Homo sapiens: one gene and its partners. The protein of the gene in region 3 interacts with the protein of the main gene of each other region in a pairwise test. Each region holds a gene or a part of one and is shown on either strand. Other genes may lie near its edges. The genes, in order: GOLGA2, MEOX2, ODAD4, NCAPH2 and CEP70.

What was found.
Region 1: the proteins of ODAD4 (region 3) and GOLGA2 interact in binary tests that used the Homo sapiens proteins (3 or more experiments, as listed by UniProt).
Region 2: the proteins of ODAD4 (region 3) and MEOX2 interact in binary tests that used the Homo sapiens proteins (3 or more experiments, as listed by UniProt).
Region 4: the proteins of ODAD4 (region 3) and NCAPH2 interact in a two-hybrid assay, tested with the Homo sapiens proteins (one large-scale study listed by BioGRID and IntAct).
Region 5: the proteins of ODAD4 (region 3) and CEP70 interact in binary tests that used the Homo sapiens proteins (3 or more experiments, as listed by UniProt).

What each region holds. Positions count from the first base shown.
Region 1 is NC_000009.12:128,269,489-128,273,007, forward strand, and holds part of GOLGA2 (golgin subfamily A member 2), read right to left. Parts: intron 3,378-3,519; coding exon 3,297-3,377; intron 1-3,296. UniProt on the Homo sapiens protein: Peripheral membrane component of the cis-Golgi stack that acts as a membrane skeleton that maintains the structure of the Golgi apparatus, and as a vesicle thether that facilitates vesicle fusion to the Golgi membrane.
Region 2 is NC_000007.14:15,680,165-15,683,683, reverse strand, and holds part of MEOX2 (homeobox protein MOX-2), read left to right. Parts: intron 1-1,703; exon of another isoform or gene 1,704-3,519. UniProt on the Homo sapiens protein: Mesodermal transcription factor that plays a key role in somitogenesis and somitogenesis and limb muscle differentiation. Required during limb development for normal appendicular muscle formation and for the normal regulation of myogenic genes.
Region 3 is NC_000017.11:41,958,108-41,961,626, forward strand, and holds part of ODAD4 (outer dynein arm-docking complex subunit 4), read left to right. Parts: intron 1-3,274; coding exon 3,275-3,359; intron 3,360-3,519. UniProt on the Homo sapiens protein: Component of the outer dynein arm-docking complex (ODA-DC) that mediates outer dynein arms (ODA) binding onto the doublet microtubule. Plays an essential role for the assembly of ODA-DC and for the docking of ODA in ciliary axoneme.
Region 4 is NC_000022.11:50,511,224-50,514,742, reverse strand, and holds part of NCAPH2 (condensin-2 complex subunit H2), read right to left. Parts: intron 1-3,519. UniProt on the Homo sapiens protein: Regulatory subunit of the condensin-2 complex, a complex that seems to provide chromosomes with an additional level of organization and rigidity and in establishing mitotic chromosome architecture.
Region 5 is NC_000003.12:138,503,743-138,507,261, forward strand, and holds part of CEP70 (centrosomal protein of 70 kDa), read right to left. Parts: intron 1,724-3,519; coding exon 1,553-1,723; intron 136-1,552; coding exon of another isoform or gene 94-135; exon of another isoform or gene 1-93.

The DNA of each region.
Region 1 (3,519 bases), on a different chromosome or scaffold from region 3:
TAGTACCTGAGGACAATCCTAGGATTCAGAACTTGGGGTCATGTGGAGCCTCTCCCTTGCCCCCAACTGGACCTACCTGCTTGATCAGAGCCCCACCCAGCCTCTCTCCAGGCTCTGACCTTACTCTTCGCCCAAGCCTCTGGTTCTAGAGATCTTCTAATATCTGACAAGCCAGATGGGCAGACAGTGGAAAAAGCTGGCTGACCAGCTAAGCTGGACAAGAGAAAAACACCAGGGAGCCAGGGCCTGGCCACGGAAGCTGGGTCTGGGAGAAGTGACTACACCTCTCTCCAGGGAAAGGACTGCGCGCTCACTGGACCCTTCAGCCCTGGCTTCTGAAAACCCAAATCTGCTTCCCTCCTTAGAGCAAGTGCTGCAGAGGCTGGTGGAACTGAAGATGAGCCAAGCTGCCTTTGCATCTTTGCAAGTTTACTGTGACCATGGAACCTGGTGTTTCCTTGACAATGCCTACAACTGAATCTAATAGGTCAGAGCAAGGGTTCAGTTGCTGGCCAGGCATTAGCCTTGAGGGAAGGCTGGCACTCCTAGCAATGGACCCTGCTAGGCTTTAGGGCCCTCCTGGCATCTTCGGTTCCCACTGATCTCTAGGATTAGACACAAGAATGCTCAGAGGAAGGGAATTTTTTTTTTTTTTTTTTTTTGAGATGGGAGTCTCACTCTGTCGCCCAGGCTGGAGTGTAGTGGCGAGATCTCCACTCACTGCAACCTCCGCCTCCTGAGTTCGAGATTCTCCTGCTTCAGCCTCCCAAGCAGCTGGGATTATAGGTGCACGCTACCACGCCCAGCTAATTTTTGTATTTTTAGTAGAGATGGGGTTTCACCATGTTGGCCAGGCTGCTCTCGAACTCCTGACCTCAGGTGATCCACCCTCCTCAGTCTCCCAAAGTGCTGGGATTACAGGCATGAGCTACTGCACTTGGCTGAAAAAGCATTTTTCTGAGGACTTTCTGACACACATAGCATGATTATTTTGTGAGCAACCAAGTTATTTCATTATTTTAAGTCTTGTAGCCAAGATGGAGTTTTTAAAAAAGCCTACTCTCCTCAAAATGTCCCATCCCATTAAGATATTTTTTCTCTCTCCATTATTCCCTACTTCTGGAAATGTTATCAGCTCCGCTCAGGATACTACGATCACAGGCCTGCATTCCTGGAGTAGAAAACTTACATGGTAATAAAAATGAGAAATTAAAAAAAAACAAAACCTACATTGGAAACAGTTACGGATATAGAGAAGGTATAAAAACAGCAAGGGGCTGGGCATGGTGGCTCACACATGTAATCTCAGCACTTTGGGAGGCCAAGGCAGGTGAATCACTTGAGGCCAGGAGTTCGAAACCAGCCTGAGCAACATGGCAAGACCCCATCTCTATTAAAAATACAAAAAAAATGGCCGGGCGTGATGGTGCAACATCTGTAATCCCAGCTACTTGGGAGGCTGAGGCATGAAAATCACTTGAACCCGGGAGGGGGAGGTTGCAGTGAGCCAAGATCACACCACTGCACTCCAGGAGAAAGAGCAAGACTCTTTCTCAAAAACAAAAACAAAACAGCAAGAAGGAAATACGGGGATCTAGGCCTTTGTTTCCAGAATAGAGGGACCTGGGCTGGCACAGAATCTCAGAGCATTAGGAAACAGGCTGAAGACCCCCTAATCCACTGGACCATTGGCAGAGCAAAAGCCAAATGCTTTTGGCTGCAGGTCACCTCTAAGCCTGTGCTCCCCAGCCGTACCACTCAGCGTCTCCTCTGAGCTGGCAAGGTGAGTCACAGCACCTGGACAGACCTGATCAACTGGAGGGTAACAGGTATGAGACTGGACAACTCTCTAACAGCAGCCAAGGCTGCTCTGTCTCAGTCCCTCTCCCCATACCCATCTCCAACAGGATCAGGCTCTATTCGTGCCCTGCTCCTCTGGCTTGGCAGGAAGGAGTCCCCCAGGTGAGTTAGAGATGGAAGAAATGCCAAATCACAGCCAGAGGAGGTTGTCTCCCAGCCCTGTGTACCTCCATGCCCTGCCCCCCACCAGGCTCCCTGTGTTCCTGAAAGGTGCTCTGTGAGTTCACACTCTGGCCACGGCCTCACCGCTCCCCCTGCCTCCCCCACTCCCCATATGGATTAATGTTACCCACCTTTAATCTTCAAGCCAGCTTCAAATGCCACCTTCTCCAGCCTGGAGTCCATTTGGAACCAACCTCCCCCCGAGCTGAGCATTTGGAATGTTCCAAAATTCTCTCTTGCCTCCTTCAGAGGAGTCTGCCTCCCTCGGTGTGCAGCCTACCTTGTTCATCTATTTTATCCACTGTTTATTTATCAAAGTGCCTTTGTTGTCAAGAGCCCAATGAATATGGCTAAATGTCCATTTGGAGAGATTAGGGGCAGAACGTCTTGGTCACTCATCTGTTTGGTTAACCTCACAACTTTTACAGTTAGTTCCTCTGAAAAAATAGCTTCAATCCTTCCAACTATAATGTGAACTCATTTTCTTTTAACCCTTTGTTCCCTACTCTTAAACCAAAGTGAATTAATTTAAAAAAAAAAAAAAAACACTAACTTCTAGGTGGTTTACTGATCTTTGCCTTTAGGGTAAAACCTAAAGGTCTGTTGGTTTTTTTGTGTTTTTTTTTTTTCATCTCTCCTAGTCTGAGAGTACCCACACTGGGCATTCAAAAGCCCAAATCCCAGAATCCCAGACTGGGAGCAGTGGCTCACGCCTGTAATCCCAGCACTTTGGGAGGCCAAGGTGGGTGGACCACTTGAGGTCAGGAGTTCAAGACCAGCCTGGCCAACATGGTGAAACCCCATCTCTACTAAAAATACAAAAATGAGCCAGACATGGTGGCAGGCACCTGTAATCCCAGCTACTCAGGAGGCTGAGGCAGGAGAAACACTTGAACCCAGGAGGCAGAGGTTGCAGTGAGCCAAGATTGTGCCACTGCACTCCAGCCTGGGCAGTGAGACTCCGTCTCTGAAAAAAAAAGAAGAAAAAAAAAAGCCCCAAATCCCACACACCTGCTCTAAAAGTTATTCCCAAATTACCTTTAAACTTTTAAACTTTAAGATATGTCTCACCTTCTCCAAGATGATAAAAGATTTGGGGGAAGAATAAAAACCCAATCAATCAAGCAGGTGAAGAAGCGGACATAAACAGGCGGAAGGTTAATGGCAGCAACATAAAATAAGCCAGAGGCAAAGTATCCCCCAAACCAGAGAAGCCTCAGGGGCATGCACAGCTGGAGAGAGCAAGCCAGAGAGGGGTCTCGGCACTGCCTCACCTTCCACTTGTCCAATGGGGGGAGCGCTACCCCATTGGAACGGTTAAGGTCGGACACCAGCACCTTCAGAATGTCCTGAATCTACAGGAGGCGAAAAGGGAAAAACAAGGGCAGGGGGAGAAAGGTAGAAGTGGCTTAGAGAGAGGCAAGAAAGTCAGGGAAGGAGGAAGATGTGGGTTCAGGGAAATGAAATAAGAAGAGTGGAGGAGATCAATACCATGGC
Region 2 (3,519 bases), on a different chromosome or scaffold from region 3:
TTTGCCAATTTCAGCTGAAGGTATATTTGTCAGATATTGAGATAGATTTAAATTAAAGATATCTTTCTCGTGTAACAATTGCATTAGGTGTTCCATAAATTATCTTCAAAGATATTTTATTTCATAGACATCTTGATCTAGCACAAACTAAAACAATATTGAAAATGATTATGATCCTGGTATGCTATTAATACGTATATCTCTCATTGCTTATAGCACATTTTAGTATTTCAATATTTCTAAAATATAAAATTGAAGTGATTTCGGAACTCCTGAAATTTAAAATTGTATTAGATAAAAATGTCATCCTATATAGTGAGATCATTTGTATTTTGTTAGGTAGTTTATAATTACTTTGCATTTATGGTTGAGAGAAAATTCAGTACATAAATCCAGGGTAAAGTCAGGACCAAAATTCTGTATCCCTGCATCTAATACTTAGACTGTATGTGTATGTGCTAATTCTAATTACCGTGTTAAATTCTAATAGAATTTTAAGCACCAGAAAGTATTGAAAAACAGCTTAAATATTTATAAACCTTACAATTTTATTCATAGTAACGATTTAAAACTATAATACGTAAGCTTCTCTAGCATATATTTTATGCACTTTCCCTCCACAAATGCACATGGACACACACATATGCAAACTCTAGCAGCTTCATGTTTTGGAAGCAAATATTTATGGACTTTAGGCTTCCTTTATGTAAGTTTATTGACAATTGAAAATAACCAAATTTAATAGAAAAACACACCATTATATTTTATATGTGTTAAACATTTTTGTAACTTTGAACCTGCTACGCTTTCCAGCATTATTAGCAAAGCCAACATCTGCCACGTCTTCAAAGGGACTCTTAAAAATCAAAACTTTACAACTGCTGAAAAAAATCACTACAAAGCAGGTGATTCTGAAAAATGTCTATAAATAGTGTGAATTGCTTGGCTTCAATTACATTTGGTTGCTCTTTGAGCAATCTAGTAGTAGGAATAAACTGCCCAGTTTTAGTTAAAATAACTAAAATTAATTCATTGATCGAACTTTAGCTTTTGTGCATGGTTATACAGTGTACATATCTAGATATTTTCTATTCAAATTTATGATACATATTTTATAAAAAATAGAAATTACATCAAAAAAGAAAAGAGCGATTTGGGGAGGTAGACTTTACTAGGTTTTGAATCATATTAGATTCTTGTAAAATTACAAATATTTTATTTATAGCTACTATGTCATAAAACCTTTGCTGTCAAATTATGTCTGTCTATATGCTTGACTATGCAGAATGACTAGCAAATATTACATTTAATAAGTTGGAACTTAAACTCAGAGTAATACCTTATCAACCTCATTCAGTATGATATTGTAATATTTCCAAGATATTTCAATCATTGTGTTTTCTGAAAGGAATAAATTAGTGTTATTATTCATTTCTGTGTTACTGGATTGTGGCTTTTCAGCATTTGCTTTAGAATTTAAAAAATAATATACTGGATCTTGAAGATTAAAGTGAAGTATTGAACAAATCAAATGGAGTACAAAAAAAAACTTCCATTCTTTATCTTGGACTGGTAGACTAATTTTAGGTGTGAACATTTAAAAATGGTAATCTGACATAAAAAATTCTAAGTATCATTGACCTACATGAGGGCTCTAAAATGTGATCTAAAATAATCACACTCAAGTTAAAAGCAACAATTCCTTTAGAATTAAAATGCTTTATTGTTGAACATTAGCAATGAATGGAAGGAAGAATGCAAATAAAAGTAGGAATAGTTTCCAATTCTGTGTAAATTTCTTCATTTATAGTTCATTTTAAAAGAAAAATCATAAATGCAAGGCATGGTATTGCACAAACTTTCACCGGGCTTAGAAATCCAGAACTTAGTATTTAAAGTTTTAATCTTTGTTTATGGTAATTATCAATAGAAACCTTTACAATGACATCTTATAAGCTGATCTTTACTAATAAACTGAAAAAACAGTACTTCAGTCATTACCCCATTCTCCCTCTGTGTTTCAAAACATAGACCGTTCATTATAACTCTGGAATTTAAGTTGTAATATTTATAATAAAATCTAAACATCCTAAGAACTTAATTTTAAGCAAAAATGAAATATCAGAAAATGTCAATCCTTTCTCTTAGATTCTGAGAAATTTGGGAGGTGAATTCCATATGTAATGAAATAATTACATTTTTTTTTGCACTTAAGAAATGTAAATCTATAGATGAATTAATAGCTGAATTATGTAAAACATCACCATATATAAGCCCACTACATGTACTTAGCCTGATAATGCTGCCTTGCTTGCGAAATTTTATTCATTTAGTGTTTTTATAATGGCAGCTTGACACACACAACCTAATATGAAGGTTTTTTAGATTTTAATTTCAAATGAGAAAAACCAATATAATACAGCAATATATTTTAGTTTTGAACTGTATTCACCTCAGGAATTTATTTCTAAATTTTCAGAGCAAATCTCTTTTCCAAGCACTGCTATGAGGGCTGCAAATATCTTTGAGCGATAAATACTAAGGATGCAGAAATATTAGAAAATAAATTACAGGTAGGAATTTCTTAAATAATATCTGTTGAATTAATAGTTGTGGATTATTTATCTCACCCAAATTTTCTTTATTTTTCTCACTTTTTTTTTTGATAAATGAAACATTTTGTGCAGGAAGATATATAAGCATTTCCCCCCTTGATTGTAATAATAAAAAGAGAAGGCTTAATTCTCAACTGGCCAGTTACATTGTATTTCCTGGCTTATAGTATTGGTAAATGATTTCAGTGGTTAAAATCAAAAGCAAAAAAATAAAATAAAACACAAACTAAGGCCAAAGTCCACAGATTAAAAATTGAAGTAGATGTGATTTATTTCCTATTTAGCATATTTAAGAAACAAGACACATTTTGTAGTCACAATTTGTTTCTACATATCATGTGCTTTAGATGTTAATATGGTTTACTGACATACATGTTTTGTAAAGATTGTAAATATAATGAGGCACTAACATTTTGCCTACTTTCCTTAGGATGCTCTCATGACTATTTCTTTTACTAGCGTGTTGAACTGAACCCCCAAGTAGAAAAGGAGTAACGGTGTAAAGTAAAGTTAGTTGCAAAACTCTCTACATTACTCCTAAATCACAGTCATCAGTGAGATTCAAAATCCCATTGGAGAAAACCTCGCAGAATATTTTATGTGTTTTAATGTAGTAAAACTTAGAATGGTCAAGAACATATAGGGCTCAGCCTACAATTTGCGTTAGAGGCAGAATTAATCTAAATCTGATGCCCATTTCTCTAACAGTTCTTCCCGTTTTACTTACATTATAAAAATATTGAATTTTTTAAAGAATGTTGTACTAGATAGTATTTTATGATACAAAATAATCAATAATGTATCTATTGATCCATTTGTGCTCATCTCAGATGTTGTTTTTATGTTTCAGAATAAGTATTTTCATTTAAAATCTCTTGACATTATTTATTACCAAATTAACAGA
Region 3 (3,519 bases):
CTGTTATCTCTGCCTGGAATATTCTAAACCTTCCCTTCCCACCTCCTTCACCTGGCTAACTCCCACTCAACCTTTAGGTTTCAGCTTAGATGTCCCCTCTTTGAGGCGGCCTTCTCTGACCCCTCAGTCTGGGTGAGGAGCCCTCACATCAGGTTTCACAGCCTTGATATGTCCCCCATCAAAGTCCACGTTGTGCACTTGTAATTGCCTAGACTTCCATTGCTTAAGGAGGCAGCTGCTAGCCACGTGAGGCTAAAGTTAATTAAAACTAGGCTGGGTGTGGTGGCTCATGCCTGTAATCCCAGCACTTTAGGAGGCCGAGATGGATGGATCACCTGAGGTCAGGAGTTTGAGACCAGCCTGGCCAACATGGTGAAACCCCATCTCTATTAAAAATACAAACAATTAGCCGGGTATGGTGGCACACACCTGTAGTCCCAGCTACTTGGGAGGCTGAGGCAGGAGAATCGCTTGAACCCGGGAGGTGGAGGTTGCATGAGCCAAGATCATGCCATTGCACTCCAGCCTAGGCAACAGAGCGAAACTCCATCTCAAAAAAAAAAAAAAAAAAGTAAATAAAATGTAAAATTCTCAGTCACACTAGCCACATTTCAAGTCATTATAGCCACATGTGAGGCCGGGTGCGGTGGCTCACACCTGTAATCCGAACACTTTGGGAGGCCGAGGCGGGTGGATCACGAGGTCAGGAGATTGAGACCATCCTGGCCAACATTGTCTCTACTAAAAATACAAAAAATTAGCCAGGTGTGATGGCACACTCCTGTAGTCCCAGCTACTCGGGAGGCTGAAGCAGGAGAATTGCTTGAACCTGAGAGATGGAGGTTGCAGTGAGCCAAGATCACGCCACTGCACTCCAGCCTGGGCGACAGAGCGAGACTCCGTCTCAAAAAAAAAAAAAAAGCTACATGTGGCCTATGGGTGCTACATAATACAGATCTAGAATATTCCCATTGTCACAGAAATTTCTGTTGAATAGTGCTGGCCTAGACTGTGTCAGGAGGCAGAGACCAGGGGAGAAACTTGGAGGTGCTCTGGGCTCCCCCACCCCACCCACTCCCAGTGCATCCAGGTGGACGCACAAGCTTAGTAAAGTCTGCACACCAACTTCACAGGTGCACACTCACCCAGGCCTCTTCCTCCTGCTTCTGACCAGACAGCTTCCTTAAGCCCTTCCCACAGCCAAATTCCAGAGCACCACTGGCACGCAGCTGGACCCCAGGAAGTATCTGCTGGAGTGAAGTAAACGGGGCCCCTGTCCTTGGGGAGCTTATGCCATCATTGAAAGAAGCCAGATTGCATAACTTGTGGGCAGCAAAGGGGCATGGCCTCAGGGACCAGCCTGGGGTCTGCAGGCACTGGGCAAAGAGAGCAGGGACCCTGAGAAGTGAAGGCTCAGGACACTCCCAGTGGGAGGAAGACCTCATGCTGTGCTCTGAAGGACAAGGATAGCAGAGCTGGCCAGGCCGAGGAGGGGCAAGTGCACTGAAGACGTGGGAGGTCGGCGCTGAGGGCTGGTGGCCGGCAGAAGAGAGATCCTGGCCTGGGTCCCAGAGCTGGGGGGTTCCCGGTGGCGGGGGATGGTGGTGACAGAGCCCCAGACAGTCAGCACACCAGCCTGGACTTGAAGGGCTGTGGACAGCAGAGAAGTGATCTGATCACCTCTGTTTTTTGGGAGGCAGGTTCATGGTGAGCTGTTTGTGAGGACTGTGGTAAGGCTAACACTGCCCTCTCATGGCGGAGAAATCATACCCAAAAGACCCCAGCAGGCGCAGTCTATCCTCTGCCACCATACGGCCCAGGGAAGCCCAGGCCTAGCATGTTGTCGTCCTCGTCATAAATGCCATGTCCCCAGCTCTGGCTTCCAGGCGAAGAGCACCCACCTCACTGCAGCCCTGCCAGATGTACCATGCGCCACATACTTCCATGTGATCGCCCTGCAGACAGACAGCATGGCCGTTCAGTTCAGGAAATATTCGCCGAGTGTAGATTGGCTCCAGGCTGCCAAGCTCAAATGTGTGCGGCCATTGTCCTAGCCCACAAGAAGATTACAACGAAAGGCCAGACACAGTGGCTCACACCTGTCATCCCAGCACTTTGGGAGGCTGAGGGCAGGAGGATCACTTGGGTCCAAGAGTTCTAGACCAGCCTGGGCATCATAGCAAGACCCTGTCTCTTAAAAAGAAAAAACAAACAAACAAAAAAACAGTTACTCAGGAGGCTGAGGCAGGAGAATGGCGTGAACCCAGGAGGCGGAGCTTGCAGTGAGCTGAGATCGTGCCACTGCACTCCAGCATGCATGATAGAGCGAGACTCTGTCTCAAAAAAAAAAACAAACAAACAAACAAAAAACAAAGCACAAACCCTGGTTCATGACCAGTGCCATAGGGGACTAGGGGAATTCAGAGTGAGAGAGCCCCAGCTGGGAGGCAGAGCTGGAGGCTTTCCAACAAGGAGGATCTGAGGTCACCTTGAAGGCTAGGCAGTAGTTTGAAGGGTTAGGGGCAGAGAGAAGGTACCTGTGACCCTCACTGACTCCTCATGGGACCAGGCCCCCGACCCCTCACCCTCCTGGATTGGCAACTCCAGGTAGGAAGGCTCACAGTGGGAGGGAGGTGGGGGGTGGGCAGACCAACACCACAAGAGAGTGCATCCAGGCCCCGGAGCTGCTCAGTAGACACTACCATGTGTAGCTGGTGTTCTGTCAGTGCCAGCCACGGGCCTGCTATGAGCAAGAAGGCAAGACCTGCCCTCCAGAGGCTCACAGGGGCTCCAGGCCCCTGTGGATCATGCACTCGAGTTGGGGAAACTGCAGACATTCTGGAAGGCCCTTCTGAAGGCAGGCCAGCCCCCAGCCTGTCCCCTTGGTGTGTTTCTGGGTCTTTTCAGTGCTGCCTTGCTGAGTGCTTGCAGGTTTGGATTGTCTTTTTGCATTGACTGAAGCCAAAAGCAGCTTTAGGTAGTTCATCTAAAGGTAGAAATGAGTAGATAGACACAACTCCCAATACATGCCTAAGCCAAAGAGAAATGCATTTGACTGACTCGCAGTCATGTATCTCCCAGACACAATTTGTGTGGATCATTCTGAGTCAGTAAGTGTAGATTAACCTGAGGGTAGGGGTCATTGGAGGGGCCAGAGGGAAACCAAGGGTGGCAGGTTCCCACCAGAGCCCTGCCTTCTGGGATTGATCTGGGTGGGGAAAATTAATGGTGTAGGTGCCAAACACAGGGGCTAAGCTCCCTCTACCATCCACAGGCCTTGGACGATGCCAACAAGGGTATCATCAGAGAACTGAGGAAAACCAACTACGTGGAGAATCTCAAAGAAAAAAGCGAGGGAGGTGAGTTCCTGAAACTCTGAAAAGGCAACTTCAGCATTCTCCCTCTGCTTTCTTTTCCTCTAGTCCGAGACACATGCGACAGCAGCTCCCCAATCTGGGGGCTTGGCACTGCCCATCGTGCATTCTAATTTCAGTGCCACCAGCAGCCCTAGCCTATCTC
Region 4 (3,519 bases), on a different chromosome or scaffold from region 3:
GCAGCATGGTCGTCTACGGAGTGTAAGGACCTCGGGGGTGTTCAGGACCTGAAGAGCTGGTCCAGAAAGAAGGGAACATGGAGGAGATGGCGGCCTGGAAGCTGAGCTGCAGAAGTGGCCCTTCTCTCCAGTGACCCTCAGCCTGGCTGGCTTGCCCACTCCCAAGACACTACTGGGCTTCACTTGTCTTCTCACCTCCCCAGGTTGGACCTGCCATCTGAGCCCAAACCCACATGTTCAGCTGCCTTCTTCAAACATCGCTTGGATGGCTTCACCAAGATTCATACTGAATGCATCCACACTGAACTCCAAATAGCCCCCAACCCACCTGCCCAGAAACCCAGGGGTTCCTCTCCACAGTCACCCCCATTCTGGCCCCACCACCTCCCCTTTCACCTCTGCACTGACAGGGCTCCTCCTGCCCTTCACTCCCCTCCCGTCCACTCTCCACGCTCTGCTCAGTGCCTCTGTTTAGGATTTTGGGTTTTTCCTAACAGTGGCAGGAAAAACCCAAAATCCTAAACGGAGCCAGAGGGAGGCCTCCATGCTGGCCAGCCTCCCTCTCCAGCTGCCTGCCCTCCTCTGCTCTATGGTCCCAACTTGGAACCTTCTGTTTTGTTTTGTTTTGTTTTGTTTGAGACGGAGTCTCACTCTGTCACCCAAGCTGGAATGCAGGGGCGCAATCTCAGCTCACTGCAACCTCCGCCTCCTGGGTTCAAGTAATTCTCCCTGCCTAAGCTTCCTGAGTAGCTGGGATTATAGGCGCCCGGCTAATTTTTGTAAAAACTCCAATCCTTCCAACACCAGGTTTCCTCCACCTGGAGCTAAACATTCTTTAGCTCACCATAAATAAGTAACTGCTTTCATCTCAAACAAACTAAGCCCCCCAAACTCTCCACAGGACCATACATTTTCTTTCAAATCCCTTATAAGTTTCTGGTGATTTTTTCGGTTGGTTGGTTGGTTTTGGTTTTTGTTTTTGAGACAGTCTCTCGCTCTGTTGTCCAGGCTGGAGTGCAGTGGCACAATCTCGGCTCACTGCAACCCCTGCCTCCCAGGTTCAAGTGATTTTCCTGCCTCAGCCTCCCAAGTAACTGGGACTACAGGCATGCACCACCATACCTGGCTAATTTTTTTTGTACTTTTAGCAGAGACAGGTTTTCACCATGCTGGTCAGACTCATCTCGAACTCCTGACCTCAAATGATCCTCCTGCCTCGGCCTCCCAAAGTGCTAGCATTACAGGCGTAAGCCACCTCGGCCTCCCTAAGTGCTGGGATCACAGGCGTGAGCCACCTCGGCCTCCCTAAGTGCTGGGATCACAGGCGTGAGCCACCTCGGCCCCCCAAAGTGCTGGGATCACAGGCGTGAGCCACCTCGGCTCCCCAAAGTGCTGGGATCACAGGCGTGAGCCACCTTGGCCCCCCAAACTGCTGGGATCACAGGCGTGAGCCACCTTGGCCCCCCAAAGTGCTGGGATCACAGGCGTTAGCCACCTCGCCTGGCCATCAGTTTCTGACTACACAAAGTCACACGCAGGGGTGGAGGCTGGATTCTGATCTGCCAGGAACCACTATCATTCAGAGTACATCTCTAACGCCTCTACTAACAAGGTTTTTGTGAGGACTCTGCATTCATATGTGTAAAGCACATAAAACAGGTGCTTAACACAAGTAAACACCAAATGCATATTTATTACACCCCCATGCGGTTACTCTCTTGGACCCGTCTTCCCATGACAGAGGAAGTCCTACCATAGTGGGGATTATCATTTGCTTTGCTTGGCACTATTTTTTCAAAGTTTAACATGGTTCTTGGCACACAATTCACAACTAACAACAATGAATAAATAAATGGATAAAAGAGAGTAGGATCATGACAGTACTAGAAGAACATTCTGGCCAGTGCAATGGCTCACACCTATAATCCCAGCACTCTGGGAGGCCAAGGCAGGTGGATCACTTGAGCTTGGGAGTTTGAGAACAGCCTGGGCAACACAGTGACACCCCATCTCTACCAAAAATACAAAAAATTAGCCAGGTGCGGTGGCACATGCCTGCAGTCCCAGCTACTTGGGAGATGGGAGGATCACTTGAGCCTGGGAGATCGAGGCTGCAGTGAGCCATGATTGCACCACTGCACTCTAGCCTGGGCAACAGGGCAAGAACCTATCTAAAAAAAAAAAACAAAAAAAAAAAAACAAAGGACAAAAAAAAGAAAAAGAACATCATGGTAGTGTGTGGAAAATGACAGAAGGAAAAAGATAATACTAGAAACCAGGAAATCAGGACTTCAAGCTGCAGAGGTTTGGAAGAGCAGACATAAGAAAGCAGGAAGGGAGCTGACCAAGCCAGGAAGGAGATTTACCAAGTGAACAGGTGTCCTCATGGACCCTGCTTGATGTGAAAACCTGAATCCACAGGAGCTCTGCCCAGCACAGTTCCCCGTATTTTCTCAGCCAACTATGCATGAGAGCAGAGAAGTTTGGTCATCAGATCACATGTGCATTTAACAAACACTTTAACGTCCACACCTATGTGCCAGGCACTCTACTAAGCAGACAAAAGAGGGCATAAGTATGGTCCCTGCCCTGGCAGAATTCACATTCTAGGGTGGAGACAGGCCACAAACAGGTAAATGAGTTGAAGAATGGCTTGTGGCCAGTCGCAGTGGCTCACACCTGCAATCCCAGCACTTTCAAAGGATGAGGTGGGCGGATCACGAGGTCAAGAGTTCAAGACCAGCCTGGCCAACATGGTGAAACCCCATCTCTACTAAAAATACAAAAATTAGCTGGGGCCAGGCACGGTGGCTCACACCTGTAATCCCAGCATTTTGGGAGGCCGAGGCGGGTGGATCACGAGGTCAGGAGACCAAGACCATCCTGGCTAACATGGTGAAACCCTGTCTCTACTGAAAAATACAAAAAAATTAGCCAGGCGTGGTGGCGGGCGCCTGTAATCCCAGCTACTGAGGAGGCTGAAGTAGGAGAATGGCGCGAACCCAGGAGATGGAGCTTGCAGTGAGCCGAGATTGTGCCACTGCACTCCAACTTGGGCCACAGGGCAAGACTCTGTCTCAAGAAAAAAAAAAAAATTAGCCAGGCGTGGTGGCAGGCGCCTGTAATCCCGGCTACTCAAGAGGCTGAGGCAGGATCGGACGCGGTGGCTCAGGCCTGTAATCCCAGCACTTTGGGAGGCCGAGGCGGGTGGATCATGAGGTCAGGAGATCGAGACCATCCTGGCTAACACGGTGAAACCCCGTCTCTACTAAAAAAATACAAAAAATTAGCCGGGCGTGGTGGCGGGTGCCAGTAGTCCCAGCTACTCGGGAGGCTGAGGCAGGAGAATGGTGTGAACCCAGGAGGTGGAGCTTGCAGTGAGCCGAGATTGCACCACTGCACTCCAGCCTGGGCGACAGAGTGAGACTCCGTCTCAAAAAAAAAAAAAAAAAAAAAAGAGGCTGAGGCAGGAGAACTGCTTGAACCCAGAAGGTGGAGGCTGCAGCAAGCTGAGATTGC
Region 5 (3,519 bases), on a different chromosome or scaffold from region 3:
TCACCACCATGGCAAAGCCCTTCTTGGGGGCTACAATCAGAGTGTTCTCTTTCTCCTCCAGACTCTAGAGCACAAGTTATCTGCATCATTCACTCAGAACTTCAACCGGTAATCTATTTTTATGTCACTCATTTCCTTTAACGATATAAATGATTACATTTTGTTTCATATTTTTTAGTATATTTTGTCTAATTAGTCTGAATCTTGTGTTCATCCCATAATGGCTTAGCATGATAAACGATCAATAACTATCCATTAGTGTGATTCTTCCCTTTGTCTTCTTCCTCTTCTAGTCTTTTCTTCTAGGAAGGCTAGGGCTTTTTCTAGTCCATCCCTTCTGAGATGAAGAAAGGTGGAGTCAGCACTGTTTCCTCCTACTGGGAGAACCCTCTGACAGGCAGTGATTGAGGAAATACCATGATTTACACTATTACTAATTATTTTACACTCTTCTGAGATACAGACTGGAGGAACTCCGGTCTATAAAGTAAGTATATTAATCTAGCACTGTCACTCAATCAAAATGTTTATGTATTGTATAGCTCTGTCTGAGCCCTATATAAAAAGGGAAGTCGAAATTTAAAAAAAATTAACATCACCACCCCCAATTTTGTTGTCTTGGAATATAATATTCTGCTTCATTCCTTTTAACAAATATTAATTGAGCACTCATTCATCAGGAGGATCTTGGGGACATATCAGAACAAATAAAAACACTGTCTTCATGGAGCTTATACATTCTTAACAGATATCTTCTGCATCATTTGTACTTCATGTAATAAGACTTATGTTGCAAACACTGTTATTGAATCACATTTTCATTAACAGGCATATGCTATGTATTATATTAGTTACTAATAAATCTAAAGTGTAAAGGGCAAAGAAGTTAAATACTACTGATTTCAACTATTTACCTTTCAGCAAACTAGTTAACAAAAACTGAAAAAACCTGAAGCTATGCAATAAATACACAATAACTCTATAAATAAAATGTGGTCTTCCATGAAGAGATAGGATAGGGAAGGGTAGCGTTGGCTGCTAGCTTACTATCTGTTCTAGAGAATAAGCAGAAATGGAGATAAGCTCAGTTCTGAGAGACAGAAAATAAAGTGTGAAGAGAGAGAAAATATCCCCAATTATAATAAAATGAAGGATAAGACATTATATCTGAAGAGGGATAAGGGCCAGGAAAATCGCAGCATGGAGATATGAAAAGGAGGCAGATGAAGGTAGAACAGGGAAGGGCCTAGAAGTACAAAGTGGATCCACTATAGATTTTCAATAAGGAAACTAACCCCAAAATTTCTTGTTTGGTAGAATCTTAGAGGAGGTAAAGCTTACAGTAATGACAACATCAAATAGACAGTACCTAAAATAGATATGTAAGTAGGAAGATTTCGGTTTTAGATAATAAGCTTTTTTAGCTTTAGAGTTAACACACAAACAAAAAAATTAAACCCTATTTAATTTTTAGCCCTGAATTAAGTCCTATTAATAAAGCACATAGAGTCCAATAGATGTTCAAAGCATATAATCATAGTCAACCCCTTACCTTTAAGGATGTCAGTTGATCTGCCCACATTTCTATTACAGGAACAAGATGCTCAAATCCACAATCTTGAACAAGATCTTTATTAAAATTTTGGACTCCCCCTTTGGTCTGTTTATAAATTATTACTGGAGCTCTTGGATTGTGGATAATTGAATTGATGCTACACAGCACCTTTAAAAAAACATAGTGTATATAGTCAAAATATTTATCCTATGCCTACAAAGTTATATATTTTAAAGGAGTGCTTTATGTCTATATATATTATATACACATATTTCATTAAATATACAAAGAAAATTATCATAAGGAATTGGCTCATGCAATTATGAAGACTGACAAGTCCCAAGATCTGCAGTGAGTAAGCGAAGACCCAGAAAAGGTAATGGGTATTTGCAGTCCAAATGCAGGCAGACTGAGACCCCTGCAAGTGCTAATGTTTCAGTTTGAGTCTGAAGGCAAGAAAAAAACCAGTGTCCCATCTTGAAAGCAGTCAGGGAGGAGGAGCTCCCTCTTATTCAGCCTTTTGTTCTACTCAGGGCTTTGAATCATTGGATGAGGCCCACCCCATTAGGAAAGGCAGTCTGATTTACTAAAGTCTACTGATTCGGATGTCAATCTCATCCAGAAGCACCTTCCCAGACACATCCAGAATAATGTTTAACCAAATATCGGGCATCCTATGCCGCAGTAAAGTTGAAACAAAATTAACTATTACAAACACTACCTAGGTTCAAAAATTGTTAGTATTTTGCCATATTTGCTCACTATCTATATTTTTAGGTGAACCATTTGAAGAAACTCTTCACCCTCAAATAATAAAGCATGCATCTTTTAAAAGTAGGCATATTCTCCTACAAACTCACAAGAACATTATCAGACTATTTAAGGAAATTAACAGCAATCCCCAGGCTGAGTGTGGTGGCTCATGCCTGTAATCCCAGCACTTTGGGAGGTTGAGGCAGGAGGATCACTTGAGCCCAGGAATTCAAGGCTGCAGTGAGCTATGATAATGCACTTCAGCCTGGGCAACAGAGCAAGACCCTGTCTCCAAAAATAATATCATTGATGCCTGGATTGAATTTTAGGTATCTTAATATATTAAGATAGTATACTATTTGACTATAACCCTCTCCCCATAAGTGATGGGTTCTACCTTACATATCATCCGAGGAAAAAAAGGGAGACCTCAAAAAGCATGTTTAAAGAGAGAAGAATAAAGCCATTTCCTATTACCACCATCAAGTTCAGCCTATTTAATAAAAAGTTTCACAATATAAAGATAGCATTTTGCTCTTGAATCTTTGTCCCTGGTCATACTTCAAGATATAACTAATAGGCCTCCTGGTAATATGACTTAAGATGTTTATTACTTCAGATGTTTATTTAGAAGCTTTTTAAGTCCAAATTAGTATAATTCAATATTTCACTTCAAATTGATGTATGTATATTTGTTTTATATATTTATTTGACAGAGTCTCACTCTGCAGCCTAAGATGGAGTGCAGTGGTGTGAACGGAGCTCACTGCAGCGTTGAATTCCTGGGCTCAAGTGATCTTCCCATGTCAACCTCTCAAGTGCTAGGACTACAGGCACAAGCCACCATGCCCAGCTAATTAAATTTTTTTTTTTCTAGAGATGTGGTCTCACTATATTGCCCAGGCTGGTCTCAAACTCCTGCCCTCTAGCAATCCTCCTGCCTCGGTCACCCAAAGTGTTAAGATTACAGGCATGAGCCACCATACCCGGCTTGAATTCCCCTTTTAAAGGACAAAGCCTCTCAAATTGAGTCTCAGAAACAAAATGAAATCCAGTTATATACTGGTACAAGAAAGTCTAAAACAAAACAGTTTTCAGAAAGGTGCTTGGTTCCCATTTACAATAGCAATAAAAGTTATAAAATACCTAGGAAATAACAAGGTATTTCCTAACAAGAAATATGCAAGAGCTAAATTTAAAAATACACAACA